Regions from separate parts of the Homo sapiens genome. Here regions 1, 2, 3, 4, 6 and 7 are each linked to region 5. The links come from fine-mapping of genetic effects on gene expression. A gene starts in region 5. Each other region holds a variant in brackets. All regions are shown on one strand. Distances are between the middles of the regions.

What was found. PIP is the estimated chance that this variant, and not a neighbour inherited with it, causes the effect.
Region 1: its variant is fine-mapped to the expression of TAB2 in monocytes (TOPMed, PIP above 0.99).
Region 2: its variant is fine-mapped to the expression of TAB2 in whole blood (TOPMed, PIP 0.97).
Region 3: its variant is fine-mapped to the expression of TAB2 in monocytes after R848 (Quach 2016, PIP 0.95). The same link has a PIP of 0.9 or more in monocytes and monocytes after Pam3CSK4.
Region 4: its variant is fine-mapped to the expression of TAB2 in liver (GTEx, PIP above 0.99).
Region 6: its variant is fine-mapped to the expression of TAB2 in whole blood (INTERVAL, PIP above 0.99).
Region 7: its variant is fine-mapped to the expression of TAB2 in whole blood (TOPMed, PIP 0.93).

The regions. Positions count from the first base shown.
Region 1 is chr6:149,244,529-149,248,528 of GRCh38, reverse strand. All of the region lies in intron 1 of TAB2-AS1 (TAB2 antisense RNA 1), which reads left to right. It also overlaps a transcript of TAB2 not described here. Among named protein-coding and RNA genes, the nearest start is that of TAB2-AS1, 11 kb to the left of the region's middle. RefSeq lists an enhancer at 1,443-1,492. The variant A/G (reference allele first, on the strand shown) is at 1,527.
Region 2 is chr6:149,348,844-149,352,843 of GRCh38, reverse strand. The region is part of intron 1 of TAB2 (TGF-beta activated kinase 1 (MAP3K7) binding protein 2); the gene reads right to left. Among named protein-coding and RNA genes, the nearest start is that of TAB2, 33 kb to the right of the region's middle. The variant A/T (reference allele first, on the strand shown) is at 1,851.
Region 3 is chr6:149,412,254-149,416,404 of GRCh38, reverse strand. No RefSeq gene overlaps it. Among named protein-coding and RNA genes, the nearest start is that of SUMO4, 14 kb to the right of the region's middle. The variant TA/A (reference allele first, on the strand shown) is at 1,849.
Region 4 is chr6:149,168,779-149,172,929 of GRCh38, reverse strand. No RefSeq gene overlaps it. Among named protein-coding and RNA genes, the nearest start is that of TAB2-AS1, 87 kb to the left of the region's middle. The variant C/T (reference allele first, on the strand shown) is at 2,152.
Region 5 is chr6:149,315,718-149,319,717 of GRCh38, reverse strand. TAB2 (TGF-beta activated kinase 1 (MAP3K7) binding protein 2) reads right to left here and starts at 2,006. Exons shown (of 7, transcript NM_001292034.3): 1 at 1,703-2,006. RefSeq lists enhancers at 674-783, 944-1,123 and silencers at 1,214-2,113, 2,204-2,743, 2,794-2,863.
Region 6 is chr6:149,232,900-149,236,899 of GRCh38, reverse strand. It overlaps a transcript of TAB2 not described here. Among named protein-coding and RNA genes, the nearest start is that of TAB2-AS1, 23 kb to the left of the region's middle. The variant T/A (reference allele first, on the strand shown) is at 1,915.
Region 7 is chr6:149,181,794-149,185,944 of GRCh38, reverse strand. No RefSeq gene overlaps it. Among named protein-coding and RNA genes, the nearest start is that of TAB2-AS1, 74 kb to the left of the region's middle. The variant C/G (reference allele first, on the strand shown) is at 1,845.

The sequences.
Region 1 (4,000 bases), 71 kb after region 5:
TGTAGAATGCTTTTCTTTCTTTCTCTCTTTCTCTCTCTCTCTCTCTTTCTTTCTTTCTTTCCTTCCTTCCTTCTTTTCTTCCTTCCTTCCTTCCTTCCTTTCTTTCTTTTTCTTTCCCTCTCTGTCTCTCTCTTTTTTTGACATAGTCTCGCTCTGTCGCTCAAGCGGGAGTACAGTGGCACAATCTCAGCTCACTGCAACCTCTGCTTCCCAGGTTCGAGCAATTCTCCTGCCTCAGCCTCCCAAGTAGTTGGGATTACAGGCGCCTGCCACCACGCCCGGCTAATTTTTGTATTTTTAGTAGAGACGGGGTTTCGCCATGTTGGTTAGGTTGGTTTTGAACTCCTGACCTCAGGTGACCCACTCACCTCGGCCTCCCAAAGTGCTGGGATTACAGGCATGTGCCACCATGCCTGACCTTAGAATGTTTATTTCTTTCTGTCTTTTATTTTATTTTACTTTAAGTTCTAGGATGCATGTGCAGAACATGCAGGTTTGTTACACAGGTATACATGTGCCATAGTGGTTTGCTGCACCTATCAACCCACCATCTAGCTTTTAAGTCCTGCATGCATTAGGTATTTGTCCTAATGTTCTCCCACCCGCTGCCCCTACCCCTCAACAGGCCCTCGTGTGTGATGTTCTCCTCCCTGTATCCCAGCGGATTAAGATGCTCATTTCTTAAAATTCAGGGGAAAGATGGACACTACCGGTTCCGTGGCCCAGGGTTTTGGAAGAGGCGGCCTCCGGATGACTGGATGCACTTCTCCCTGGGACTCACCCTGTGTCGTTACAGCTCGAGCTTACTGAAAATAACAGACAGACACCTCCACTTGTCCCCTCCAACAGAGTGGCTGCACTGGCAGCTCTCTAATGAGTTCTAACCCCATAGGGGCAGTTATGAAACTGATGCAAAAAGGATACAATCAAGATAGAAGTCAATAAGGAGCACAGAAGGCATGAGTAAGACTTGCATCAGAGAGGCCAAAACCCAAAATGCGCTGGGGGTTGTGGGAGCGGCTGAAGAGCCTGGAGAAGCCGCTTATAGTCATTTTAAGTCAGATTAAAGGAGTGTGTTTGGCTGACGAGAGGACCCCATGCTTGCATGTATGGAGCCTTATCTCAGCTTCCATACCTACAAAGGGGACATGATTGGTGTCTACCCCAGAGAGTGGTTTTAAGAATTAAACAAAATGACGTGTGTGAAACTCTTGGAACAGTGTCTGGTTCATGGCAGGAGGTGTCCGTGACGTGCCTGAGGCCATTTGTGTGCTTACCTGTGTGTTTCTGTAAAGCAGACCCAGTGCAGGGCACCAGGGATGTGGTGGGAGCCACACGGGATGATGACGTTCCTACCCTCAGGGAGCTCACACTTACGAGGGGGCAGTAGAGGTTGGGAGTGGATAGCCTTGGAGGAGAGGGGTGGGGGTTGTCGGGAAGAGGGAGGGCTTACCTGAGCAGGAGCTGTTGAAACTGCAAGGGAGGCGGCTGGGTGGTGAGGGCAGAGCAGCAGCAAAAGGTTGGGG[A/G]TAAGGAACTGAGAGTGGGCCCTGACTGCTGAACAGGGACTGCTGTGGCAAGAGGCTTGGAGGAAGCAGAACTCAGGCACTTTCTGTTTGGTTTTAGTCTTCCTTGACAAACAGAATCAATTTCAGATGAAAACGGCTTCAATATTGCAGAGAGGAAATCAAAAGAGCAACTTAGCCGAGTGTGGTGGTGCATCTGTAGTCCCAGCCACTCAGGAGGCTGAGCTGGGAGGAGGGCTTGAGCTCAGGAGTCCGAGGCTGCAGTGAGCCGTGATTGTGCCACTGTGCTCCAGCCCGGCAAGAGAGCAAGACCCAGGCTCATACAAAAAAGAGCGCCCAGCTCTTCTGAATCTGACCTGGCCCCTCCGCCTGAGCCCTAGGTTCCCGCCTTCCTTGGCCCTCTCATGTTGACTGTCACGACTTAACAGCCCAGTCCAGGAACACCTGCGGTGAACTTGGGATTTCTTTGACATTTCAACTGTTATTTTAAAAGGCTATGGTCGAATAGAAAACAACATAAGACCTTCTGATTAGCGGTTTTAGAAAAAGCTTTGTTTCGATGGTGCAAATTAGGTAGGTGGAGGAAATTATCCATGAAGACTGGAGTTTACATTTTCTGGAAATTGTTTCATGCAGTCTTCTAGGGAAAACAGAGTCCTGTAAAAAGTAGCCTATTGAACACAATTTGAAATTTTAGGCCTGAACAGACCATTTGCTTTTAGGAGCAAATGCTAGGGAGCCATTTCCCTTGAAGGTAGAAGTGGGCCTTTGGTAAAAAGTCCAATAACCGGCCGGGCGTGGTGGCTCATGCCTGTAATCCCAGCACTTTGGGAGGCCAAGGCGGGTGGATCATGAGGTCAAGAGATCGAGACCATCCTGGCCAACATGGTGAAACCCTGTCTCCACTAAAAATATAAAAATTAGCTGGGCGTGGTGGTGGGCGCCTGTAGTCTCAGCTACTTAAGAGGCTGAGGCAGGAGAATTGCTTGAACCTCGGAGCGGAGCTTGTAGTGAGCAGAGATCGTGCCACTGCACTCCAGCCTGGGTGACAGCAAGACTCTGTCAAAAAAAAAAAGTCCAGTAACGACTGTATAATTTTTAAAGTGTAAACGCAGAGGAGGGAGAAATGTATAGACAGAAGTATTTGTTTCAGCTTTGCTTGAAGAGGCAGAATCTGGAAACCATCCATCTGTAGGGGAATGGTACAAAAGTGATGGTATGGATTACTGTACGATTCTCAGTAAGATGATGCTAGGGGGTTGTCCATGAGGTATTATTAAGTGAGCAAAGCAAGCCATGGAATAAAGAGTGCATTGTTTCCATATCTGTATAAACAAACAGCAAAACACCCTAATTTTGCCCACATGCATCAATATCTAGTTGTATAAGCGTGGACAGAGGGACTATCTCGGTGAAAAAGAATGAAGGAATTTCAGGAAGAGAAATAATTTATATAACCATGAGTTGTTTTATTTAGTATAAATAAATACATTAAAGAAACAATTTAAATCATATATCAAAAGGAAGAAGAAACAAGGAAAAATGTCATGGTAATTTTACATCCTATTCTATAATATAAAACTACATTTTAAAGTTATCTGATATGAGAAAAAAGTATCAAACCTCTCCCCTCCTGAGTCTTTGGGAGAAATAAACAGCACACCATAGTGATTTGATGGCTGCAAGTCCTCTGGTCACCACTACATGTGCCCAGGTTGCTCTTAGCCCACCTCTAGAAGCTACGGCTAAGGTTCAGATCTCCTCTACTTTCCAAAACTTGGGTCTTTAAGCCCTACTGAATCTGAATGTCATGCTCTGTCACTTCACAAAACCTATGGCCCTGACCCTCTTCCAAAAATGTTGCTTCTCACCTGTCTGGCAAACTCTTAGCATCGTGGTTATGAGTGTGGATGCTGTCACTGAGTGCCTGGGTTTAAACTCCAGCTCAGCCCCAAGGTAGCTGCTTGACTTGGGCAAGTTACTTGATCTCTCTGTGCATCATGAAATGGGGATAGCACTGATATCTAAACTTGAGGTCTTGAGAGAATTAAATGAGTTAATACATCTAAAACTGTGTACAGATGGCAGCAGCATCTGCCATATCTTGTTGTTTTTTTTTTTTTGAGATGAAGTCTCCTGCAGTCCCCAGGCTGGAATGCAGTGGCGCTATCTTTGCTCACTACAACCTCCACCTCCCTGGTTCAAGCGATTCTCCTGCCTCAGCCTCCTGAGTAGCTATGATTACAGGCATGCACCCCCACGCCTGGCTAGTTTTTGTATTTTTAGTAGAGATGGGGTTTCACCATGTTGGCCAGGCTGGTCTCGAATTCCTGGCCTCAAGTGTTCCACCAGCACCCCTGACTCCTTACCTCAAGTGACCCACGTGCCTCGGCCTCCCAAAGTGCTTGGGATTACAGGCGTGAGCCACTGCGCCCAGCCTGTATCTTCCTGTATGCTTGCTCTTATTATTACTCATA
Region 2 (4,000 bases), 33 kb before region 5:
AAAATCACTGGGCTTCATCCTGGACCTACTGAATCAAAGTCCCTAAGTATAAAGCCCAAGTATGTTCACTGATTCATCTTTGAATCCACTGTGATGAGCCCTCTCAAGACAACTGCTTATCTGAATGTTTCTTCAAGTAAAGTTTACTCCAGTTCCTACAAGACCGCTAGTTGATAACACAGTAAATGAAAGGCAGGGAAGGGACTAATCAAAAACCAAGATGACTATGGTCAAAGGATCACATATAAGAGGTGCTTATAGTAAAGTATTGATTTAAGGAAGGAAAATAGAGATGGAAAGGGGTGTGGAATTTCATGAGTTTAAAAAACTGGGTGAAAGGCAATGAAATAAAAAGATTATTAAAATGAAGTCAATCACCAACAAGCCTGTAACAGGAATGGTTAGAAACTTGTATGTAACTTGATTCAATGGGAAAGAAATAACTAGGGGAAGAAAAAATTACCTCTATTAAGTATACACAAACAGATTCTGCAGCTACTATATATTTAAGAGTGTAGGAAAATGTAGATGTACAATAAACACATATGGATCACCATAGGTCAGCTAAAAATGAAGCTTATTATAAAATAAAAGCTGTTTTTGGGCAGGTAAATTTCTGAAAAATCTTTTACTATCAAGAAGGTGCCATACAAAGTAAATGGTGGAGCAAAGCTAAATTCCCAGAGATCTAACTTTTAAAAATAAAAGGAATAACTAGTAATGTATCTCACATAAACTACTCAATTTACATAATTTAAACTTGACAAAGTATTGGCCTTTACTATTAAAATCTTAAGAAAGAAAAGGAACCAATGAATAAATAAAATGTTACTCTGAGACAGGCATAAACTTTCCTGAAGAGAAGAAAAGAGTAGAACTAAAAGAACCAGTATTCTACCTTAGCCATGCACGCTTCTAAAATTTTCTGGTGAAAGAACATGTTAATAGTTTAAAACAGAGATAACCTAATGTTGCTAAATATTTCAACCTCAGTTCCATAAGTGCACACTGTCTTATCTAACTAGATGAGACAATTATGATATAAGGTATATAAAACAGTATTTGATACACAGTGATAGCTGGCTAAGTATAAATTCTAGGATTCCATGGGTTCGTTTATGAAGTTTAATATGCTATTTACTTGCAGTAACTTCTTGGGCAAATCATTTAATTTTTCTGTGCCTCAGTTTCCTCATCTATAAAATGGTGATGATAGAGTAGCTACTTCATAGGAGTGTTAGGAGAATTAAATGAGTAATCCAAGTAAGATAATAAAAAGAGCACATAGTAAGTACACATGTAAATAAAATATCAATACTATCATTTCATTCTTCGTAAAATGGAGAAAACAACTCAAAGAGCTTCAAGGATTAGTGACAACATAATTAAAGCCAATTGCATTATATCTGTCCTGCCTACAGCAAAAAGTACAAACTGGTAGTAGTAGTAATTATTTATTTTAAATATCATGAACTTCCACGAAGTGCAAAGGAACAAAACCTTACAGGGCTGCATATTACCCTGGTTGCAGAATATTGTAGGAGTGGATTGAGCCTTTAAGGCCTTCTTTTTCAATGCATACGGGACAAAAAACTTGCAGTTGGGGAAATCTGACAAAGCTACATGACAAACTCAACAGTACTAGGTTGTGCAAAGTGCTAGAAAAGTGGCATAAACTGTGTTATAATAGGTGTTTAAAGGGATCTCTCTGGGCTGAGGAGGAAGTGGGAAAGTATTGAAGCATAGGAACTTAAAGTATAAAAGAAGTAAGGCAGATTCTGGGGATCGTGTCACCTGTCTTGCAGGAGGAAGAAAGGAGGGACAAAGAGGAAAGAAGGGGATTATGAAGA[A/T]GGTACTCAGGATGGGGGTAGTTACAGGAGAAGCTGAGAAGATGAATGAAGGTTTCAAGGTATAGTGGTCTTTATCTGAGAAGACCTTGAGATACGCTAATGCTAATAAGGTTTTAATATATGTCAAACTATATATATACATCATTTTATCTTTGCACCGTTCTTACATAATTATGAGTTTTGCTGGAACAAATTTAATTATGTTAACAAAGTAAGCTGGGCATGGTGGCACATGCCTGTAGTCCCAGCTACTCAGGAGGCTAAAGAAGGAGGATCCATTGAGCCCAGGAGTTCAAGGATGTAGTGAGCTATGATTGTGCCACTGCACTCCAGCCTGGGTGACTGAGCTCTTAAAAAAAAAAAAAAAAAAAAAAAAGACATAAAATATGGTTCATGCCGAATATCAAACAGTAGTAGGAAGAAATACATAACGTTCACTTCTCAACCGCCCTAGGATTCTTCCTTAGCTTGTGTACAAGAATGTAAGAGAAGATTTTTCCATTTCAACATACGCTAAAAGCAAATTCCAGTTTCCAAAGTAGCCATTAGCGGTAATAATTTTTTCTGTAAATCATAAAATCCTGAATTGGACAGAATTCTAGGAAGTTATCTCATAAAAGTATAATTTAAGAGATCTGAAAAATGCCTTGTTGCCCAGTCGTCTCCTTGTTAGACTTCCTCTTCTCCCAGTCAATCCTATTTACCTCTTAAAAACAAGCCCTGGTCACAAAGAAAATTCTTCACGTGAGAAATATTAATTCCAGCCGGGCGCAGTGGCTTACGTCTGTAATCCTAGCACTTTGGGAGGCTGAGGTGGGTGGGTCACCTGAGGTCACGGGTTTGAGACCAGCCTAGCCAACATGGTGAAACCCTGTCTCTACTAAAAATACAAAAATTAGCCAGGCGTGGTGGCAGGCGCCTGTAATCCCAGCTACTCGGGAGGCTGAGGCAAAAGAATCGCTTGAACCCAGGAGGCAGAGGTTGCAGTGAGCTGAGATTGCGCCACTGCACTCTTGCCTCGGCGACAGAGTGAGACTCCATCTCTGAATGAATGAATGAATGAATGCATGCATGTATGTTAGTTCCCAAGCAGAGAGACTATTTTTCACTGGTGTATCCTAACTACTTAGTGTATGTCAAGTGGATGCTCAGTAAATATTTGTTGCCATAACTCTCTAAATAAACATCAGAATACATACAGCTTTTAAAGACTACTCTAAAAAGTGGTTATCTATCTCCCCAAACTCAAGCGTTTCCCTTAACCTCAGATATGTCAGTGCTGCTATATCTGTTTTGAAAATGTAAATATGTTCCATCACAATTGATATGAGAGAACAATTTGAACATTAAGTCAATTTTGCTGTAATTTCATTTGTAAGAAACACTAGGTGAACACAGAAAGCTGTATTGAGCTAAAACAAGCAGCATATGAATATACAAAAAGTAAACAGGAACACACCTGAAACACTTACCAGCTATCTCAGCTTAACAGATCTGCATGTCATTAATCACACCCAGTCACATTACTGATTTCAAAAAACTCTTTCTTGACTACCTTTTTTTTTTTTTTTTTTGAGACGGAGTGTCACTCTGTTGCCCAGGCTGGAGTGCAGTGGAGTGATCTCGGCTCATTGCAACCTCCGCCTCCTGGGTTCAAGCAATTCTCCTGCCTCAGCCTCCCAAGTAGCTAGGATTACAGGCGCGTGCCACCGTGCCTGGCTAAGTTTTTGTATTTTTAGTAGAGACGGGGTTTCACTGTGTTAGCCAGGATCATCTCAATCTCCTGGCCTTGTGATCAACCCGCCTCAGTCTCCCAAAGCACTGGGGTTACAGGCGTGAGACATGGCGCCCAGCCTTGACTACTTTACAATAACTCACAAGCTGCAATTCTTCCTGTGCTCCCTTCCATAAGCAAACTTTAGGTCTCATTGAGGAAAAAGTACAATATTCATTGTAGTATTTACATATTTCTTAATTTATTTAACATGAATAAAATTATCTTTAAGATTTTTTTTTTAAATTTTTTGAGATGGAGTTTTGCTCTTGTTGCCCAGGCTGGAGTTCAACGGTGCGATCTCGGCTCACTGCAACCTCCGCCTCCCGGATTGAAGCAATTCTCCTGCCTTAGCCTCCTGACTAAGCTGGGATTA
Region 3 (4,151 bases), 97 kb before region 5:
CTATCTATGAAAGTCCTGGAGGGCATCTCGACACCTTCTTCCACTCGAAGGCTGTTTCATCTACATGGAAAATCTGTTTCATGTAGCCACATTATCTTAGTTTGATCTTCTGGATAACTTGATGCAGCTTCTATATTGGCACTTACTGCTTCACCTGCCACTTTTATGTTATGAAGATGGCTTCTTTCTGTAAATCTCATGAACCAACTTCTGTTATTGTCAAACTTTTCTTCTGCAGCTTCCTCACTTGTCTCATAGAATTGAAGAGTGTTAGAGCCTTCCTCTGGATTAAGCCTTGGCCTACGGGAATGTTGTGGCTGGTTTGACTTTCTATCCAGGTGATTAAAACTCTTCATATCAGCAATAGGCTGCTTCACTTTCTTATCACTTGTGTTCACTGAAGTAGCACTATTAATTTCCTTTGAGAACTTTTCCTTTGTATTCACAACATGGCTGTTCGGTGTAAGAGGCCTAGTTGTCAGGCTATCTTGGCTTTCAACATGCCTTCCTCACTAAGCTTAACCATTTCTGGTTTTTGATTTAATATGAGCGATGTGTGACTTTTTCTTTCACTTAAGGTTAGAAGCCACTGTAGGGTTATCAATTGGCCTAATTTCAATATTGTTGTGTCTCAGGGAATAGGAGGCCCAAGAAAAGGGAGAAAGACAGGGGAATGACTGGTTGGTGAACAGTCAGAACACACACACTGGCCGGGCGTGGTGGCTCGCACCTGTAATCCCAGCACTTTGGGAGGCCGAGGCGGGCGGATCACGAGGTCAGGAGATGGAGACCATCCTGGCTAACACGGTGAAACCCTGTCTCTACTAAAAATCCAAAAACTTAGCCGGGCGTGGTGGTGCACGCTTGTAATCCCAGCTACTTGGGAGGCCAAGGCAGGAGAGTCACTTGAACCCAGGAGGTGGAGGCTGCAGTGCTCCGAGATTGCACCACTGCACTCCAGCCTGGCAACAGAGTGAGACTCCATCTCAAAAACAAACAAAATCTCACACACACACACCAAAAAAACCACATATTATCAAGTATCGGTTAAGTCTCACACAGACATGGTTCAAACGTCACTTAAGCCTTAGATGGATATGCTTCATGGTGCCCCAAAACAATTACAACATCAAAGATCACAGATCACAAATCATAATGAATGTAACAGTAATGAGAGTTTGAAATATTGTGAGACTCATCAAAACGTAATACAAAAGACACAGAGGTACATGCTGTTGAAAAAAATGGTACCAATACATTTGCTCAATGCAGGGTTACCACAAACCTTTAATCTGTAAAAAACACATCTGTGAGGTGCAATAAAGTGACACACAATAAAACAATATATGTCTGTATCTAAGTGGAGAGGTCAAAGTAGCAATGAATGCCAAGTAGGCAGAAAATATAGCAAGTGCTATGAGAAAAGGTGCGGTTTGGAAAGGTCTCATGATGGTGACCCTTGATCGGATCACTGGAAAGTTAAATTTAAGTACAGAGACAAAGCAAATGGCATGGACGAAAGTACACTGGTGGGGATGTGCAAAGCCTATTAAGGGAAGTGATTAGACCAATTTAGTTGTAAGAGGACTCTGTTGGAAAGTAATGATCCTGAAGAGACAGGTAAGGAACAAACAAGTCTTACAAGTAAGCTCAATGAACAATGGGGAAATAATAAAGATTTCTGAACAGGATTGTGTGGGCATAGTGTTATTTCTGTAATATACTGTAATCTAGCTGCAGTGTGCAAGGAAAGAGTAAGAACTTGGAATCAATTAGGTCACAGTGTGAAAGGGACGAAACCTATCAACAATCCATGGATGAGTTCAAAGGTGAAAATTAAAAAAAAAA[TA/A]TATATATATACATATATATATCTGGAGCCAGGTGCAGTGGCATGCATCTGTAGTCCCAGCTACTTGGAAGGCCAAGGTGGGAGGATAACTTGAACTCAGGAAGAGGCCAGCCCAGGTAACACAGCAAGACCTTGTCTCTAAAGAACAAAACCAAAAACCACTGGAAAGGATTTCCATGGTGAAGATACCGCAGTCTTTGTTCACGGCTATGAGGATCAATAAACACTTCTAGAATAAGATCAGTAAGCTGTATTGGTTCTACATCACGTCAGGGGAAGGCTGCCCTCAGAAGAGGAAGAACGGAGTAAAGAAGGGAATCTGTAAAGAGGGAGGCACTAGAGAGAAGTGTGCTTTGGGTCCATTTTAGGCTTAAAACAAATATGCAGACATGCAAACACTAGAGTAAGTTCTTCAAGTGTTTTTCCTGGAGAAATAATTTGTTATACTCCATCATAAAATGTACACTCTTTAGACAGCTGAACATATAATACAAATATAAACATACCTGATCTTCAGGTCAGCCTTCCAAAGTTTTATAATCTTTGCAAAGCTACCAACCTTTGACATTAAGAGGAAAAATTCAATCTCAGTGAATGAAACATCAAATTCTGATCCATTGAGATGTCCCTAGACCAATTCAGATAAATAGCTAACTTACCTGTTAATACTGTTGAGAGAACAATACTTCACAACCCATTTATGTAAAAACAAGGCCCACTTTTAGGACAATGCAGTTCCTAGTCAGAGAGAAGGGGTTGGCTCAGATAATAGTTTCACATTAATCCTTACAACACCCCTGTGAGGTGAGTTTAGCATTAATCTAATCACCTTCGTTCGACAAGGAGAGGCAATATAAACAAGGAACTGTCCCAGGATTACAGAGTAAATCTAATGAAGACATCTGAAATCACAGCATTTTGGGAGGCTGTGAGCCGATCACTTGAGGTTGGGAGTTCAATGCCAGCCTGGCCAACGTGGCGAAACCGTCTCTACTAAAAATACAAAAAAAATTAGCCAGGCGTGATGGCGTGTGCCTGTAAACTCAGCTACTGGGGAGGCTGAGGCAGGAGAATCACTTGAACCTGGGAGGCGGAGGTTGCAGTGAGCCGAGATTGCTCCACTGGACTACAGCCTGGGTGATAGAGTGAGACTCTGTGTCACACACACACACACCACAAAAAATAAATAAATAAATAAATAAATAATAAAGTTGAGAGGTCATAACAAATACAAAAACTCACTACAAAATTGTTTTCTTAGGCCTTTTCTCTCAGTTGTCTAATTGTATTTTCAGATGGAAGCAATACAAATTAAAATGCAGCTGAGCCATTTCAAGTAAAATGGATATAAAATTGTAGCACCAAAAAAGCTGAAGCCAAAAATATATTCATTTGCCATACAGGAATAGAAGTACTTTGTGATGTTATATGGGAAGCTATGCCGATATCCAGCATATAGATATTAAATCTGGAGTAGTCTCTAGTGTCACTACATTATTTTCTACGGCAATATGGCCTACTTCCATTACTCATGGGCTGAATATTTTATTTTATTTTATTTTATTTTTTTGAGACAGAGTCGTGCTCTGTTGCCCAGGCTGGAGTGCAGTGGTGCGATCTTGGCTCACTGCAACCTATACCTCCTGAATTCAAGTGATTCTCATGGCTCAGCCTCCAGAGGATCTGGGACTACAGGCATGTGCTGCCACGCCCGGCTAATTTTTGTATTTTTAGTAGATGGGGTTTCCCCATGTTGGCCAGGCTGGTCTCAAACTCCTGGCCTCAAGTGATCCACCCACCTTGGCCTCCCAAAGTGCTGGGATTACAGGTGTGAGCCACTGTGCCCAGTCTGAATATTTTATCTTATACTGTTTACCTCTTAAATCTATCCCTGCTCACTAGAATTGCCTGTCAACATTACATTGGGATAGAGAAAACTGGTGACACGTCAGCTAGTTTTGCTATTTATAGCTGCTTTGATTAAGTAGGTTTAAAGCTAACAATTAGTTTTGGACTACCCATGGAGCTGATTTTCTGCATAATTTCCCCAATATAAAGTTAATTAATATTAGATCAAAGATGACACAGGTTAAACAAGATTTTAAAAGAAAAATAAAATTTCAACTTTTTTCCCTCAAACGCCTGCAATATAACACACATCTTTGTCTAACGTATTAGTTGTCACAGGAGACATTTGGCTGACAATTTGTTAATATAAAAATTTTCCTGAGAAGTCTAGTTTACATGAACTGCCAATTCCTCTACCCCCAAACCCCTTTAAACATACAGATGAAGGATAATT
Region 4 (4,151 bases), 150 kb after region 5:
TCTATTCATTGATTTCAGTTCTGCTCCCTGTCTCCTGTCCCCGGCTCAAGTGCAGCTTGTTCTGGACTTGGCTTTTCCAGGCCCGATTCTGCCTCACGACCCTTCAGCTTTATGGTCCACTGTGAACTGACCCATTCTCATCATGTTACTTAGTTCACATGCTGTTATGGACTGAATGTTTCCCTCCAAAATTCATATATTGAAGCCCTAACCCCCGATATGATGGCCTTTGGAAGTGGAGTCTTTAGGTTTAGATGAGGTCAGGAGGGGAAGGCCCTAAGAAGGGATTGATTAGAGCACTTATAAGAAGAGTTAGAGAGATCAAAGCATGTACTCTTGTTCTTTCTTCCTTTCTCTTTCTCTAGACCATATTGGGACATGTCAGGAAGGTGGCCATCCATCTGTAAGCCAGGAGGAGTGCCCTCATGAAGAACTGAATCTGCTGGCACTTTTATCTCAGACTTATGGCCTCTAAATGATGCAAAAACAAGTATCTGTTGTTTAAATCACCCAGCGTCTGGCATTTCATTATAGCAGCCGGGCTGACTAAGAGACATGGCTGTGGAGAGATTCAGAGTGGCTTGGGTCCTCTGTCCGAGGCAGGCTCCAGGCCAGGCCTTGTGAGGGTCAGGCCTGGGATGCTGGTTCTGCGATTTCTCCTGGTCCAGGGTTGGACATAAATGTGTGTTTGTGTCCAGGAGTGGTGCTCTAACCCCAAGGCCCCCATCTGCAATGGTGGCATTTGAAACTTGACTGCTGGCCACTGAGACTTCTTGAGGCTTCTCCAAACAGAGCAAAGAGGCTGTCCTTGGTTCTTCTAGGATGAAGGACTCACCAGGTTGGGAACAGGAAACCTAGAGAAATTCTCAACATCCTTACAGGCAACTCTTGCAATTGTATATGGCACTGCTTGCTGGTTGAGAGAGGCTTGTAGTGTTTGTTCTCAGGACACTCACTGCGGCACTGTCCCCACATATGAAAACCAGGAGAGTGGGGATTTAAGCTTGTTTGTTTGCTTTTAAGCTGCAGAAGCATGCATTTTTCATAATGAGTAGAGGCCACCAACATATGGCTCATGGATCTCCTTTGCTGAACCTATTCCAACTCAGAGCTGTAAGAGCCCTCATCAAGTGTAAAGAAACCCGTCTCCTCATGTAACTGAAATTTTAAGTACCACTCAGGTCTGGTTTCAACTCTGGCAATAAAATAAAAATCTTTCTCACCTTTTCACAGATTGGGTCTCCCTGGTATATTTCAAATTAGCGCAGTTAGCTGAGCCCTCTAATGTTTCTGGATATGAAATGGATAGGGGTAATTCAGCCTCAGCAGCTCAACAGCATCCCACTTGCTGTCACTGGATCACAGCTATGGAAGTGTTTCGCTTTCCCCGGCTGCACGAGAAAGCTTGATGACGACCGGATGTGGAAATATAAGTCCCACCTATTTGAGAGGTAAAACTGATGAAGACATAACATACAAGTCTGTATGTCTTCAGAAGTCATTAATAGGAAAGAACTTGTTTACTCAAATCTTCTAATCTGCCCATTTTAAAGAAAGTTGTGGGCAGCACAGTTGACATGTCTTCCAGGTTCCAAAACCAACAGAACTGAGAGTTTCAGGTTACCAGAAAGAAGTCAAACATCTAGCATTTAATGAAACTGTACGTGGACTCAGAAAATGGTAAAGGGTAAAAGGACAAAAACAAGACCTCACGGTAATGACGTCACCTCCTAGGGTGACTCTGCTGGGCTTTCCGAGGGACACACAAAAAATAGTAAAGTAATAGTGCAGTCCAGTTGGGGAGATAAGATGTAACTCAGGGGAAAACCAAACGCCAGTAAAGTGTTTGAGTGACATTTTAATAGAGAGCAATGGAAGAGCTATTTCATGGGGATCCTGGGCTAATTGCCAAGGCCATCCCATCAGCAGTAATTGCTCTGCATTGGAAGGGGATAGCCGTTACTTCAGGCTGCGAGGGTCAGAGATGTAGGGCTTGACCAAGGGGTTGAGTCGGAGGTTGACGCAGGCAGGGGAGGGGTCTTTCCCGGCAGGTTAAATGGCGTGGGCAGAGGGCACAGAGGGGAAATTAATGTGTTCAGGAGAAGGAGAAATTATGTGGTAATGTTCAGAAAAGCTCAGGCACTTGGACTT[C/T]ATATTTTACAAATACTCTGAGAGAAACAGGAGAAAAAAATCAATTCTAAAAGTCTGAATTGTGTAATAACTGCTGACAGTTTTGGCTTTTTTACTGCAGATGTGTTTAAATGCATGTTTTATTATAAAATTTAAAATAAAATATTGTGTATATATGCTGAAATAAAACTATTAAAAACAACAGAATTTCAAAGGCCAATTCTTGTACCATTTCTCTAATAGGTCTTTTTGTATCAGGTCTTTAAAAAAAATCATAGAAGGAAATTTTGCCTTGTCCAAAGTGGTTTGAAATATCTCACATGGGAAGGTTTCTCAATGAGAAAACAATTATGTAATTACACTCATGTTTATCTCATTTCTGTATACTTTGACTTACTAGAATTAAAGCTTCTTGCTGAAGGAACTTCCCAGAAACTTCCCCAATCCTAAAACAGAACTTTGGAATGGTACCTTCAGTTGGGAAAGCTGATGGCTTTAGACGTAGGGCTTTGTGTTGGCTTGTGAAGTGTCAGTGGGAGGGGAGCTTGACTGCACTTTAGTCACCCATGTATAACTGGCTTCTAGTAGACAGACCTCCTACCGGCTCACAATCTATGGAACCTGCTTGTCACCCATACCCTAAATCACTGTTCTTCCCCCAGGTGACTTAGTAAGTGGTTCACACACAGCTTGCCAGCACATGAAGGGAGGAGTACAAATGGCCCCTCTGGGCAGCTGCGACTGCCCTCTCGGTGTCCCCCGGCACTTCTGACCATGCTGGAGTGGCACAGAGATGACTCAGTGATGCTCAGCTATACTCAGAAAGCATTTAGGCAATTTTCCCGAAAGCTGAGCCTGGTCAGCTTCAGAAATCTGCCCTGGCCCTGCCCTTTTAGGAGGGCACAGATCACTCATTTTTACAAAGCCCATTGAGATGTAAGCCCACACCCAGAAGTTCATATTTGACTGATGAATATACCCCATTGTGGCTTTGTATATGTCTTTGCTGCCAGTGGGTATTCTGTAAAAGGCCTGTTTGTATAAGCTGGTGGAAAGGGTTTAAGTATGACAGAGTTGCTGCGTTCTGGGGAAGCGAGGATGGAAAAGCAAGGTTTTCTAGGGCTCAACCAGAAGAGCCTGGAGACTTGACAATCAGGTGTTTGTGGAGAAGATAGGAAGAGGTGAGCAGGCGTAGCAAGAGACAGACAATGGGGGAGGGAGGGCTGATAGCTGGAAATGCGAGTTCATGGAGTCCTCTCATTGGAGATGGGGGTGAAAAGGGAGGGGAGGAGGACAGGAGTCAGGCGGAGAGACCCACTCAGGTGCTTCTATGGAGCTGGGGTCATTCACGTGCACGTGCCTTTCTGGAGTCTCCCCTTCCTCTCCCATAGGACCCCAGTAGTGCCCTGTGCTTCAGTGTGTGAACCGTGGCTTTTATTTTCTCTATTCTGATGCTTTGACATCCGGAGCCTTGTGTCCCCTGGAGGGACTGCCCCTTTCAGGGTTAGCCAATTCGTAGGGATAGTAAACAACCCGCCCAAGGGCACAATTTTCAAATACAAACCAACCAACCTAGAGTCCACACCCCAACCACCTTCTTTGCTGGGCTCTCATACTCTGAGTCATTACCCATCTGCCCTAATCCCCCCTGGCCCAGGTGCTAGACAACTAGGGACAGACCCTCTTCCCAGAGCCCACTGAAATAATTCAAGCCATCCGATGCTAAGTAGCTTACCCCGTCTTTCCTGTTCCTTCCCACAGAAACCACAGCCGAGGCTCTTGCCTGTAGTTTCTCTGCTCCCTCTGCCTCCTGATGGTCCCTGGTTCATCCCCATGTGGCCCTCATGGTGCTGTGCCCTCCTCCCCTTGGGAACTGTGAGTAACAAACTATCTTTTTAATGGCGATTGTCTCTCGATCTGTTGGTCTCACCATACCTAAATAGTAACAAAGTCTGTTAAAACGTTCAGTTCCAAAAAAATCTCATGAGCCAGTGCTCTGCCCCAGTCATGTCCCCATAGTC
Region 5 (4,000 bases):
TGACGTATTCAACTTTCAGTTTGATTCTTGAAAGATTTAAAACTTAAGCACCCTCTATTAGAAACTGATTAGACCTATGGGGGAAAAACCCAAACAGAAGTTCTGAATCACTGGAATTTTTGTTCTATTTCCTGTTAACACATTGATAGTACATCATATTCGTTCCATACATGTTTTTTTAAAGCAGCAGAATCCTTAAACTAACTGTACCCTAATTTAGCCTATAGCTCATGTATCTAACAATTCTTCCCATTGTTTCTAATTAAAATGCTCAGCCAAAGCCTACAACAAAAGAAAAGCAAGTCTTCCTTTATTACAAACTGCCATGGTTTCAAAATTTACAGTTTCAAACCGTCAAAAGTTTAAAATCGTGATTTCATTGTTACAAAGAATGTAAAGATATTTTTTAAAAGGTGTCAATACTCTGCTACTGTATGAACAGTGTAGTAAGCAGAAGTGAAAAAACTGAAAGCAAATATTCTATTCCATGCCCACTAAAATTCCCGGCCAAATCTGGAATTGCATAATGATCATCATAACCTTTAGAGTATGCTAAAGCGGAAACGAAATTCCTTTTCTAAAATGTGAATCAATCTGACCCCAAAATTAGACACTTTACAAACTTACCTAAAACAGACAAAATGGATGCAAAATTATATTGCCGTACAGTTGCTCTGAATACGATCTTAGCGTTCAAGAACTTTCCAATGAATAAGGGTACTCAACAGCCTGCACTGGGGGCCTAAATTTCGTGAACTACGGAGAAACCCCTGTGAGGCTGCAAATTCCCTCCGCTCTCCTGGAAAACCCTCTTATCAGAAACATTTGAAGAATTTATCCACAACAATTAAGCTGACTTGAAGAATGGAAACCTAACATCTCAAATATACTATATATGGAATGAAACATGGCCAAACACATAAATACAAACTCACACGGTCTCTGACACTTTGGTGTACGACTGTGCCTGAACATCTCACAGCATCAGCAACAGAAAGATCCACCTGTCACCTGTTCAGCACCGCCAAGAGACCCTTGCAGCCTCCCTGACTCAACCACAATCGTAGGGTTTGAGGTTGATGGGACCGAAAACCAGAAACATCCAGTGAAATTTAAGGGGCCACATATTCATAGTAGGGCTTGCCCCCCACTTCAAAGACGGCTGCAGAAAACCAAGATCCGCAAAGGAACGATGTTCTCCCTCCCGCCCGACCCCCACATAACTGCCCCGTGTCTGTCCCCAAAACCCCCGCCCCTGAGTCATCTTTAACTAGACCTCGGCTCCCCAAAAGGAGATTTTTCCTCCCCCGCCCCCACCTCACACATGCCTGGGGGCGGGTCAGGGGCGCCGACGCAGGGAGGGGCCCTCCCGAGCCCCTTGCGCCCTCCCCCACCCGGGGCTCTCCTAGGCGCTCGATTCCAATGAAGCTCCCCCTCCCCCCCCGCACGGACGCCCCGGAGCCCAGGCCCGGCCCGATGCTCCCCACCCCCACCGGACTGGGGGACTCGGGGGGCCTCCCTCTCCGCCACGCCACTGGGGGAAGGAAAGAGGCGGAGGGAGGAAGAGTGCAAGTTAGAAGCGAACGCCCCGCACGGGCCTCGCGAGGCGGCAGAGCCCCTTCCAGACGGAGGGGGGTGCGGGGCGATGAGGGGAGAGCCAGGTTGGGGATCCCGCCGAGGCCCGGCAGCGCTGTCCGCTTACCCTTTGCCGCCGCCGCTTCCCCCTCCTCCTCCTCGGCCGCCGCCGCCGCCGCCTCTCCCACTAGGGCAGCCGTCTCCACCGTCGCCTCCGCCACCACGGCCGCCGCCAGCGCCGCCGCCGCCTCCGGTTCCACCCGGCAGGGGGGACACCTCAGCCCTCCCTCCCTCCCCGCTCAGCCCCCTCCGCTCGCCCGCCGCCGCCAACTCCCTCCGGCCGCCGCCGCCGCCACCGCTCCTGGCTGAGGGGGAGGGGAGGGGGTCGGGCTGGGTCGCCCCGCCGGCGGCTGCAGCAGATCAAAAACGACGGCTGGGCGGCGTCGCCGCTCCCCAATCCTCAGCTCCGGCTCGCTCGGCCTCCCCACCTCCCTCTGCCCCCACCCCCCTCGCGCTCGCCTGCCCTCCCCCCACCCCCCCAGCTCTCGCTCGCTCTCGCCGCGGCTCCGCCAGCCCAGTCCAAATCAAAATACTGTCACACAATATGGCGGCGCGGCGGCCGGCAAACACCGCGAGATCTGCAGCCGCGGCTGAGGCGGCGGCTGTGACGAGGCCTCCCCTAGCCGAACGGCGGGGGAGCAGCAGGCGGCGGCGGCGGCGGCGGCTGCGGCTGCGGCCCGGGGATGCTCTTCCTCCGACCTGTACCCCTCCCCCGACACTCGCAGTCTCTACGCCTGTCTTGCTAGGGCTGGAGGGAGGACGCGGGCCGCCGCTGGGGCCGTGCGAGGGGGGTGCCGGTGCGGGCAGCCCGGGGAGGGCTGGGACCCCCTTTCTCCGCCTGGGCCCCCCATCCTTGGGGGTAGGTTGCGGGTTCCACCTCCCGCCACGGGGGCCGCTAGCAGTTTGGGCTGAGGGAAGAAAGGAACTGAGCTCGCGTCCCAGCTGCACCTAGCGGAGGGGCTGGCCGGGTCCGGAAGTGGGTGGCGGGACTTGCCGGGCGGCCGGCGGCGCCGCGCGGGTGGGGTCCGGGGGCCCGGCCGGACCCCGGGGCGCTGCGGCGGCCGAGAGGAGCAGGTGGGCCCGCGGCGGAGGCTGGCGCCGGGTCGCTGCGGTCCGGGACACACCCCCTTGGAGCCGGATCGCACCGCCGGCTAACGGGAGGGACCCGTGCAGAATCGTCCCTAGGGTGTGCGGGAGACGTCTTGGGAGCCTCACAACTGGCAACTTCGAGACTTGGAAAAAGTGTCGGCTTCTGACTTTTCTTGAGCAGTTGAGGGGGAAAAAAGAAATCTAAATGCTGCGAGGGTTTCGTTGTTTCGATTTTATTTTAATTGCACGTTCCTAGAAGTCCTAGAAGCAGAGCCAAAGACTAGCTTTGCGGGAAGAGGGGGGGCCTTCAAGTTTCTACCTCCTTAAATAAATATTTGTTTAGTGTCCCCCTAGGGAAAAAAAAAGCGTGTTTAATACTCAGACGTTTCTCACAATGTGAAATATTTATTTAAAAATTCTAGCGCTTCCATGGTGTCCAAAACACTAGGGCATTTTTCTGCCCCTGTCCAAAATGTCCATATCCCTGGCAGTTTCTTCCTTGAAACAATTCTTACTCCAGAGAAAAATCCTAAAGGACCATTTTTATACTTTTATTTCCAGTGTGAGCACTGTAGCTACAGTGAGAATTTTTTTTAAACCATCTTTTAAATAGTAGAGCCTTCCTCACAGTTAAAAGTTCTTTCTCCCCACTTCCTTTTTCCTCATTCATCCTTTGAAAATACCTGAAGTCTGGGCTATAGCACCAATTCAAATACTTTGCCACTTCAAAAGCTGAAAGTACTTATGATTTACAATATCGGAATTTAATTATTCTCCATTGGTGATACCATTAAGAGAAGCAAAAGTAAAATTAGGATTTACAAAATTGGGAAGATTCTAGTTTTACTGGCGAGAAGAAATCATTAACTTTAACGCTTTACAGCAGTTCTCTGAGGAATTATTTCCATACTCAATGATAAAATAATTGATTAAATAATTTTAGATAAACTGAATCCATTAAGTAAATTTCACTTGTCTTTGAAACCATTATAAAGTACAGAGGCAACAATTGCTTTTGAAATGGTAGGATGATGTATTTTATGCAAATTTTTAAAAAAATTTATGGAATGTACATGTACGTATTTTAATAGAAATATAATGCTTTATAGATTATAGGTTTGAGCAGGTCAAGTCTAAAAACCAGTGGGGGGCAAAGAAGGTACATATAACAAATACATCCTTGCACCAGCAGTGCACTTAGAGCTATGTAGTCATGAGGAAGCATCAGACAAACCCAAGTAGAGGAAAATAAAATATAAAATAACTAGCCTGTATT
Region 6 (4,000 bases), 83 kb after region 5:
ATTATGCTGAAAATTGCTTCTGGCTGACTGGTCTCCTGGTTATTAATTCAAATGTCCCTCCTATTGATGCTGTTAATGGCTTCAAACAGCTCTTGTCTCCTTTTATGCAAGGGGAAAATTGGACCCCTTCCAAACAAAATAACAGTAGCCTAGGGAAGCCAACATATGCAGCATTGCCAGATAACTCCAACTATTAATTTTCTTCAGCCAAGTTCCTTTCCATTTTTTAACAGATATGTCTTATGCTGCCTAACTCTACAAGGTAGACATTCCTATTACTCAAAAAATTTTTATATAAAAAAGAACTTCCCCACTTGATTAGCCTCCTATCTCTTTTTCTGGGCCATTTCACCAACAGAAAGCACTGAGTGAGTAGAAACCTCAGATGTGGTGTTGTATTGGGTTCTCATTTGGCAATGGGGAATAAGGAATGGTAAAAGGGCATTAGAATCTTTGTGAACAGGAAAGAAATCGAGGCAGAAATAATTTGAAAAAGCTCCTCCCATGATTCTGACATGTTCCCAAGTTGAAAACTACTTATTTAGAGATATAGAAGCTTCAGCCAACAATACCTCCTATTGTTTGATCCTGTGACTTACGCTTGAATACCTCAAATGAGGGTGACCTCATTGGTCATTATATTCCTGGACCATTTTATTTTATTTTTATATATTTAGGGGGCACAAGTGCAGATTTCTTGCATGCGTATATTGTGTAGTGGTGAAGCCTGGTATTTTAGTGCGCCCATCTCCCAAATAGTGAGCACTGTCCCCAATAGGTAATTTTTCAACCCTCACCTCCCTCTCACCCTCCCACCCTTTGTAGTCTCCAATGTCCTGGACCACTTTAATCTTTAGAAAGTATTTCTGCATTTTGAGCTCTGTGTCATGGTCATTTTTCACTTTTTGGGTGCCTTAAATCCATTCTCCCTTCCCAAGAGGACCATAGTTTTCTTTTGGGGAATAAACTGCTTTCCACTAGAGCCAGCCTGGGTTTGACAAATAAATCTAGGTGTCCTCCCCCTGTGGAAGTCAAAGGGACCTCTTGAAGGTCCTTCTGCCAGACTCTTCTTCTCATTTCCCTGGGACAGTCAAGGGACTGATGTGTGACCTATGCATGTCTAATGAAATTCACGCTCCTAGGACATGAATCTTGAGCAGGGTGACACAAGCACCAAGGCAATGGCTGGAATTCTTTTAATTGTAGAGGCAGTGCTAAGCAAGATGGTCAAGAAGTTCCTGATATCAAGGCTTTCTGGAGCCCTCTGTTTCTTGTGGACCCCCAGTCTGGTTCCTCGGCCTAGCTAGGAAATGGTGAACTCCTTCATGTTCTTCCAACCAATGTATCTTTTTGCTCAAGCTAGTCAGATGATTTTTTGGTGCTCAAGACCAAACAAGGCTGCTACCTCAAACTTCACCCTCCTGATCCTAGTTCCTCTTTCTGCTGTTACACCAAACACATAGGATCCCCTTTTAATAGGATGTTTCAAATTTTTAAAGACATCTATCACGTTCCTCCCAAGATTGCTCTTCCTCAACAGAATATCCCCATTTCCTTTAACACTTCTTCACTATTGTGGCTTATGGAGCCTTCAAAATTCTGTTTTCCTTGGCACAGGGCCCAGTTTCTCAAGGTCCCTCTTACAGTGTGTCATCCGGGATTGAAACCGTAAACCCACTTGGTGTTTCAGCCAGTTCAGATTATGGTCAGATGTTTCCTTGCCTTGAATGTTGTATTTATATGAATGCAAACAGAACTTGCCTTAGCTTTTATTTTTATGCTCCACTCTGAACTCAGATTGAGTGGCACAGAGCGCACACTTAAAAAGCTGGAGTTATTATTAATTATAAACCTCCTGGCTTTCTAATAAAAAGTGCTGAAGTCAGATGTCCTCATCTTGTATTTTTGCAATTG[T/A]TTTTGAAAATCTAAAAGTGGCACTTAGTGTTTATTCTTGTTACATGGTATGCCTTTGTTTTTGGTCTATTCTTAGGCCAATGCCATTTTTTAAAAAGAGTGTGTTTTTTTTTTTTTTTTTCACACTCTCTAATCTTAGTCGTCTCATCTTTTTATCTTCTACTTATCTGGCACACATGCCTTTGATGTTTCCTTCAAATCACTGAAAAAATCTCACACAGTTCTATGACACAACCCAGGGAACTCCCTCCAGGTTGAAATCAATTCATTAATCATCTCAGCACAGTGTATTGTCTGCTAAGAACCCAACCTAACTGCACTCTATTTTCCCATCTTGTCCACAAGAAAATGAATAAGCAGCTCCCTGGGATGTCTGGCTGACAGCGTCATTTGCAAGGTACATGCGGCAGGAGGTGGGCAACTGTGAAATGGGGAGGTTGATTTTCCATTTTCTTTTTTGTGGGCACCAGTTTCTCCCAAACAAAACCTTACGCAAAACCCTAATACATACAAGATGGCAGTGAGTAGCTCGGGGTGAAGCTGGGGTGTGGGTGGGCAGTGGTTGACTTCCTGCTGGCCCCAGTGCCCTTCAGCCAACCCCTCTTCAGCCTCTTACTTTCCTCCTGGCACCTCTCAAGAAAGGGGTGACCTCTAGGGGGTTATGGTTTCAACATTCTGATTTAAAACATCCGAGTAGCAAGAGTTCCCTTTATTACTTCTTCTGTCTTCAAGTCTGCACATGTCAGCAGGGGAAGCCAAGATTTTATCAGATAGTCTGCTTTTAGTAGGTTTCTCTTTTATCTTAAAAATGTTATTGAAAACCTCCCATGTGAAAACTTCATACTAGGAGCGGTTTGTGAGTCATAGGTGTCTTGTTCAATATAGTTCTTAAAGACTTGGTTGAAAATACAAATGACAAAAATGTGACTGATTATTATTATTAAAAGGTTAAAAAAATCATAAACTGAAGTGAAGTACTGTTGGAACTTCATAGGAATAAATGTAAAAATGCCACATTTACATTTCATAAGCGAATTACACAAGGATAGGATTGAGAGGTCCAACCTAACAGCATTTGGGGAGGGTTGGAGGGCTTCATGGTGGTAAAAAAATTATATTATTGTTTATGGAGAGCCCGTTATGGATCAAGCATTGGATATATTAGGTTGGTGCAGAAGTAATTGCAGTTCTTGCCATTAAAAGTAGTTGCAAAAACAACAATCACTTTTGCACCAATTGAATAGATTAAGGTGAGTTTCTGGCCTTGAGAAATTTACAATCTAATAAACAAGTATATTGTGAAGTGTAAAGGAAAGCAGGACTAATCTATTGGAGAAAACCTTCCTAGGGGGTTTTCATTTGAAGAATGTCAGATCCATGAGTCATTTGGTAAACAATTACTTAGTGCTTTGTTAGGGGGCAGTTACATGTTGGTGATTCAGGGATAAAAAACCACTTCTGGCCTTTAAGAGGCTCATAATATAATGGAGGAGACAAACCAATGGCTCAACCATGACACTTACGTGTGACAAATCAGATGAAGAGATAAGAACTGGTTGCTGGGCCCTGGGTGGCTCTGGGCCCAGGCAGGAAGGAGGTTTAGTTTGCTGCTTTCTGCGGTGAGCTTTCAGGATCAACTTTCTTGGCCTACAGTAGAGGCGTCTCAGTGGAGAAGCCAAGGAGGCACACTGAGCGGAGGGAGGTTTGTCTCGGACCCTGGATGACAGATTCTTGGTCACTGTGCTAAGTGCCCAAGTTGTGACTTGTGCTGGAAAGCCCTTGTTTCTCACCCCCCGCCAGGTAGTTACCATGGCATTCATGACTTCCTTGGTTATTTCCTGTCATCATTTGTCCCCACCCATGAGTGCCTGGCTACCTCCATCTTCCGGCTGGTGGGTCTGCATGCAGGATATATCACTCCTGGTGTGAGGGGTGGACACTAGGCAGGTGAAACAGGGCTATTATGTACTATGCCCTGGCATGGGAGTGGGTACTCCTGGCCAGGATGTCAGCTGTGCCTGCCTTTTGGGCTTCGACTTCCACACAGGTCGCTGTGAGGGAAGTACAGCAGCATCCCTCAGGATGG
Region 7 (4,151 bases), 130 kb after region 5:
TATTTACTTAAGATAAGGATTAGGCTGCCTTCAGCCAGATCTGTTACTGAAGCTTATGCAACAACCCCGGCCTTCCAGGAAGGTTTGTATCTATTACTTATAACTATCTTTAAAATTTTTCCCACCAGCCTGACTGAACTCCCACCCATATGGGACCAAAAATGAGCCCACATAGCCAATTCAAGACCAAGCAAAAAGAATAAATCTGGGGGCATCACATTACCTGACTTCAAACTATACTACAAGGCAATAGCCACCAAAACAGCATGGTAATGTCATAAAAATAGGTACATAGACCAATGGAACAGAACAGAGAACCCAGAAATAAAGCCAAATACTTACAGCCAACTGATCTTTGACAAAGCAAGCAAAAACATAAAGTGGGGAAAGGGCACCCTATTCAACAAATGGTGCTGGGATAATTGGCAAGTGACATGTAGGAGAATGAAACTGGATTCTCATCTCTCACCTTATCTGAAAATCAACTAAAGAGGGATCAAAGACTTAAATCTAAGACCTGAAACCATTAAAATTCTAGAAGATAACATTAGAAAAACCCTTGTAGATACTGGCTTTGGCAAAGGCGTTGTGACCAAGAACCAAAAAGCAAAAGCAACCAAAACAAAGATAAATACTTGGGACTTAATTAAACTAAAAAGCATCTACATAGCAAAATAAATAATCGGAGGAGTAAACAGACAACCCACAAAGTGTGAGAAAATCTTCATGAACTATGCATCTGACAAAGGACTAATATCCCGAATCTATAAGGAACTCAAACAAATCAGCAAGAAGAAAAGAAACAATCTCATCAAAAAGTGGGCTAAGGACATGAATAGACAGTGCTCAAAAGAAGATATACAGATGGCCAACAAACACATGAAAAAATGCTCAGTTATCAGGGAAATGTAAATCGAAACCACAATGAGATACCACATTACTCTTGCAAGAATGGCCATAATTTACAAATAAAAAAATAATAGATGTTGGCATGGATGGGGTGAAAAGGGAACACTTTTACACTGTTGGAGGGAATGTAAACTAGTACAACCACTATGGAAAACAGTGTGGAGATTCCTTACAGGACTAAAAGTAGATCTACTATTTGATCCAACAATCTCTACCCAGAGGAAAACAAGTCATGATATGAAAAAGACACTTGCACACACACATTTATAGCAGCACAATTTTCAATTGCAAAAATATGGAACCAGCCCAAATGCCTGTCAATCAACCAGTGGATAAGGAAAATGTGCTATATATACACCATAAAATACTATTCAGCCATGAAAAGGAATGAAATAATGGCATTTGCCACAACCTAGATGGAATTGGAGACCATATGCTAAGTGAAGTAATCAGGAATAGAAAACCAAACGTCGTATGTTCTCACTTATGAGTGGGAGCTAAGCTATGAGAACACAAAGGCATAAGAATTGTACAATGGACTTTGGGATCTTGGCAGTAAGGACGGGGAGGGGTGAAGGATAAAATACTACACACTGGGTACAGTGTACACTGCTTGGGTGATGGGTACACCAAAGTCTCAGAAGTCACCACCAAAGAACTTATCCATGTAACCAAACACCACCTATTCCCCAAAAACCTATTGAAATAAAAAAAACAAGTGGAAAGGGGGGGAAACATTGATTGGTGAAGAACTTTCAAGGTTTTGTTTTTTTTTTTTTGTCTAAAAAAATCTTTATTCTGCCCTTATTTGTTATTATCATTATTTTTATTATTTTTGAGACAGGATCTGGCTCTGTCACCCAGTCTGAAGTGCAGTAGCACAATCTTGGCTCACTGCAACCTCTGCCTCCTGGGCACAAATGATCCTTCCACCT[C/G]AGCCTCCTGAGTAGCTGGGACTACGGTATGCACCACCACACCCCACTAGCTTTTGTATTTTTTTGTAGAGATGGGGTTTTGCCATGTTGTCCAGGCTGGTCTTGAACTCCTGGCTCAAGCTATCTGCTTGTCTTGGCCTCTCAAAGTGCTGGCATTACAGGCATGAGCCACCGCACCTGGCCATGCCCTCATTTTGAAAGGTATTTTCTCTAAATTTAGAATTCTAGAATTATAGCTTTTTTTTTTCTTTGTGTACTTTGAAGATGTTCTACTCTCTTGTAACTTTGTTACTAACAAGGAGTCTGTGGTCATTCTAATTCTTGTTTCTCTACATAGTGTGTATTTTTTTTCTCCAGCTACTTGTAAGGTACTCTCTTTACCACTGGTTTTGATCAATTTGATTATAACGGTGTTTGTGTAGTTTTCTTTATGTTTCTTGTGATCCTTTGAGCTTCTTGTATCTGTGGTTTACGCTTTTCACTAAATTTGGAGAAATTTTAACCTTATTTTTTCAATTTTTTTTTCTATATCTATCCCTCCTTTTCTGGGACCCTTATCACATGTATATAGATCAAGTATATTGACCCACAGGCCACTATCATTCTGTTTCATTTAAAAAAATATTTTCTCTCTGTTCTTCATTTTGCATAGTTTCTATTGCTATGGTCAAGTTTAATAAACCTTTTTTCTGTATTGTATGCTTTTTATCCCAACAAGTATATTTTTTCTGTTCAAATAGAATATTTTTCATCTCTAGAATTTCCATTCGTGTCTTTTTTATATCTTTTGTTTCTTACACTGTCATGTTCACATTTTTCTTACACCATGATCATAATGATAATATTTGTATTAGTCATTTTAAAATCCTTGACTGCTAATGCCATTTTCTGCCATTTCTGAGTTTCTTTCTATGAATTAATTGTTTTTCCTGGTTATGGGTTATATTTTCCTTCTTTACATGCCTGGTAATTTTTGACCAAATACCAGACATTACAACTTTTACATTGTTAAAGGTTGGATTTTTTTCACATTCTTTTAAAGAGTGTTAGGCTTTTTATGTCAGGCAGCTAAGTTACTTGCAGATTGGCTTAATCTCTTTGTGCTTTATTTTATTTTTTATTTTTTTTTGAGATGGAGTCTCACTCTGTCACCCAGGCTGGAGCGCAGTGGTGCAATCTCGGCTCACTGCAACTTCTGCCTCCTGGATTCAAGTGATTCTCCTGCCTCAGCCTCCTGAGTAGCTGGGATTATGGGCGTACCACCACGCCCGGCTAATTTTTGTATTTTCAGTAGAGACGGGGTTTCACCATGTTGGTCAGGCTCATCTCAAACTCATGACCTCAGGTGATCCACCTGCCTCGGCCTCCCAAAGTGTTGGGATTACAGACATGAGCCACCCCGCCCGGCCCCTTTGTGTTTTATTTTTAAACTCTTTTGGGATGGGGCTAACCTAGCCTTTACTCTGAGACAGCCCTATTTCTAAGGCCTGGCCCTCCTGGAATATCTACTAAATGCCTTGCGTATTCAGTGAGGGCTTTCTACTTTGCCTCATGAGAAACGGAACTATTGCCAAGTCTGTGTGAACTCTGGGAATTGTCAGCGTACGGTTCTCTGGTGATTGTTCTTTTTGCAGAAGTTGTTTTTGCCTGGCCTTATGAGTTATCACCTCACACATGCGCAGACTGGCATTCAGCTAAAGACTGCACAGGACTCCCGAGTAGGTTTCTGGAACTCTTTCTCTGTGTGACTCCCTCCTTGCAGCTATTCCCCCACAGAGCTGCCTTGGACTCCCTAACCTTGCATCTTTGTCTCCTCAACTCAGCAAGATTCCAGGGCTCTGTTTCCATTCCAGCATCTTACACTAAAGTCCAGAAAGTTCCTCCAGGCAGAAAGCCTTGTCAGTGGTGGGGCTCACTTCACTTATTTTCCATTTTTCAGGAAGAACAGTCCTGCACTGCTTGTAGCACAATTTCTGAAAATTCTCATTTCCTATATTTTGTCCAGTTTTCTAGTTGTTTATGACCAAAGGATAGTTCTAGATTCTCCCAGTGGAGCTTTTATATTTTTATTTTTAAAGTATATGTTAAACTAAACATTGTCAGGGTTTTGAATTCACTTTGTGATTAAGTTTTTTTGTTATGATATGAATTTGATTTCTATAAACAGGGCCTTCACTGCATTGAACAAAAATAAGGCTATTGACATCTTATGGTTAAAAACCTACAAGCATTTAGATGTAATTCAGTGGTTACCAGTATCTTCAGATACAATATATTATACTCCTTGATAGGAATAGCAGCTTCAGC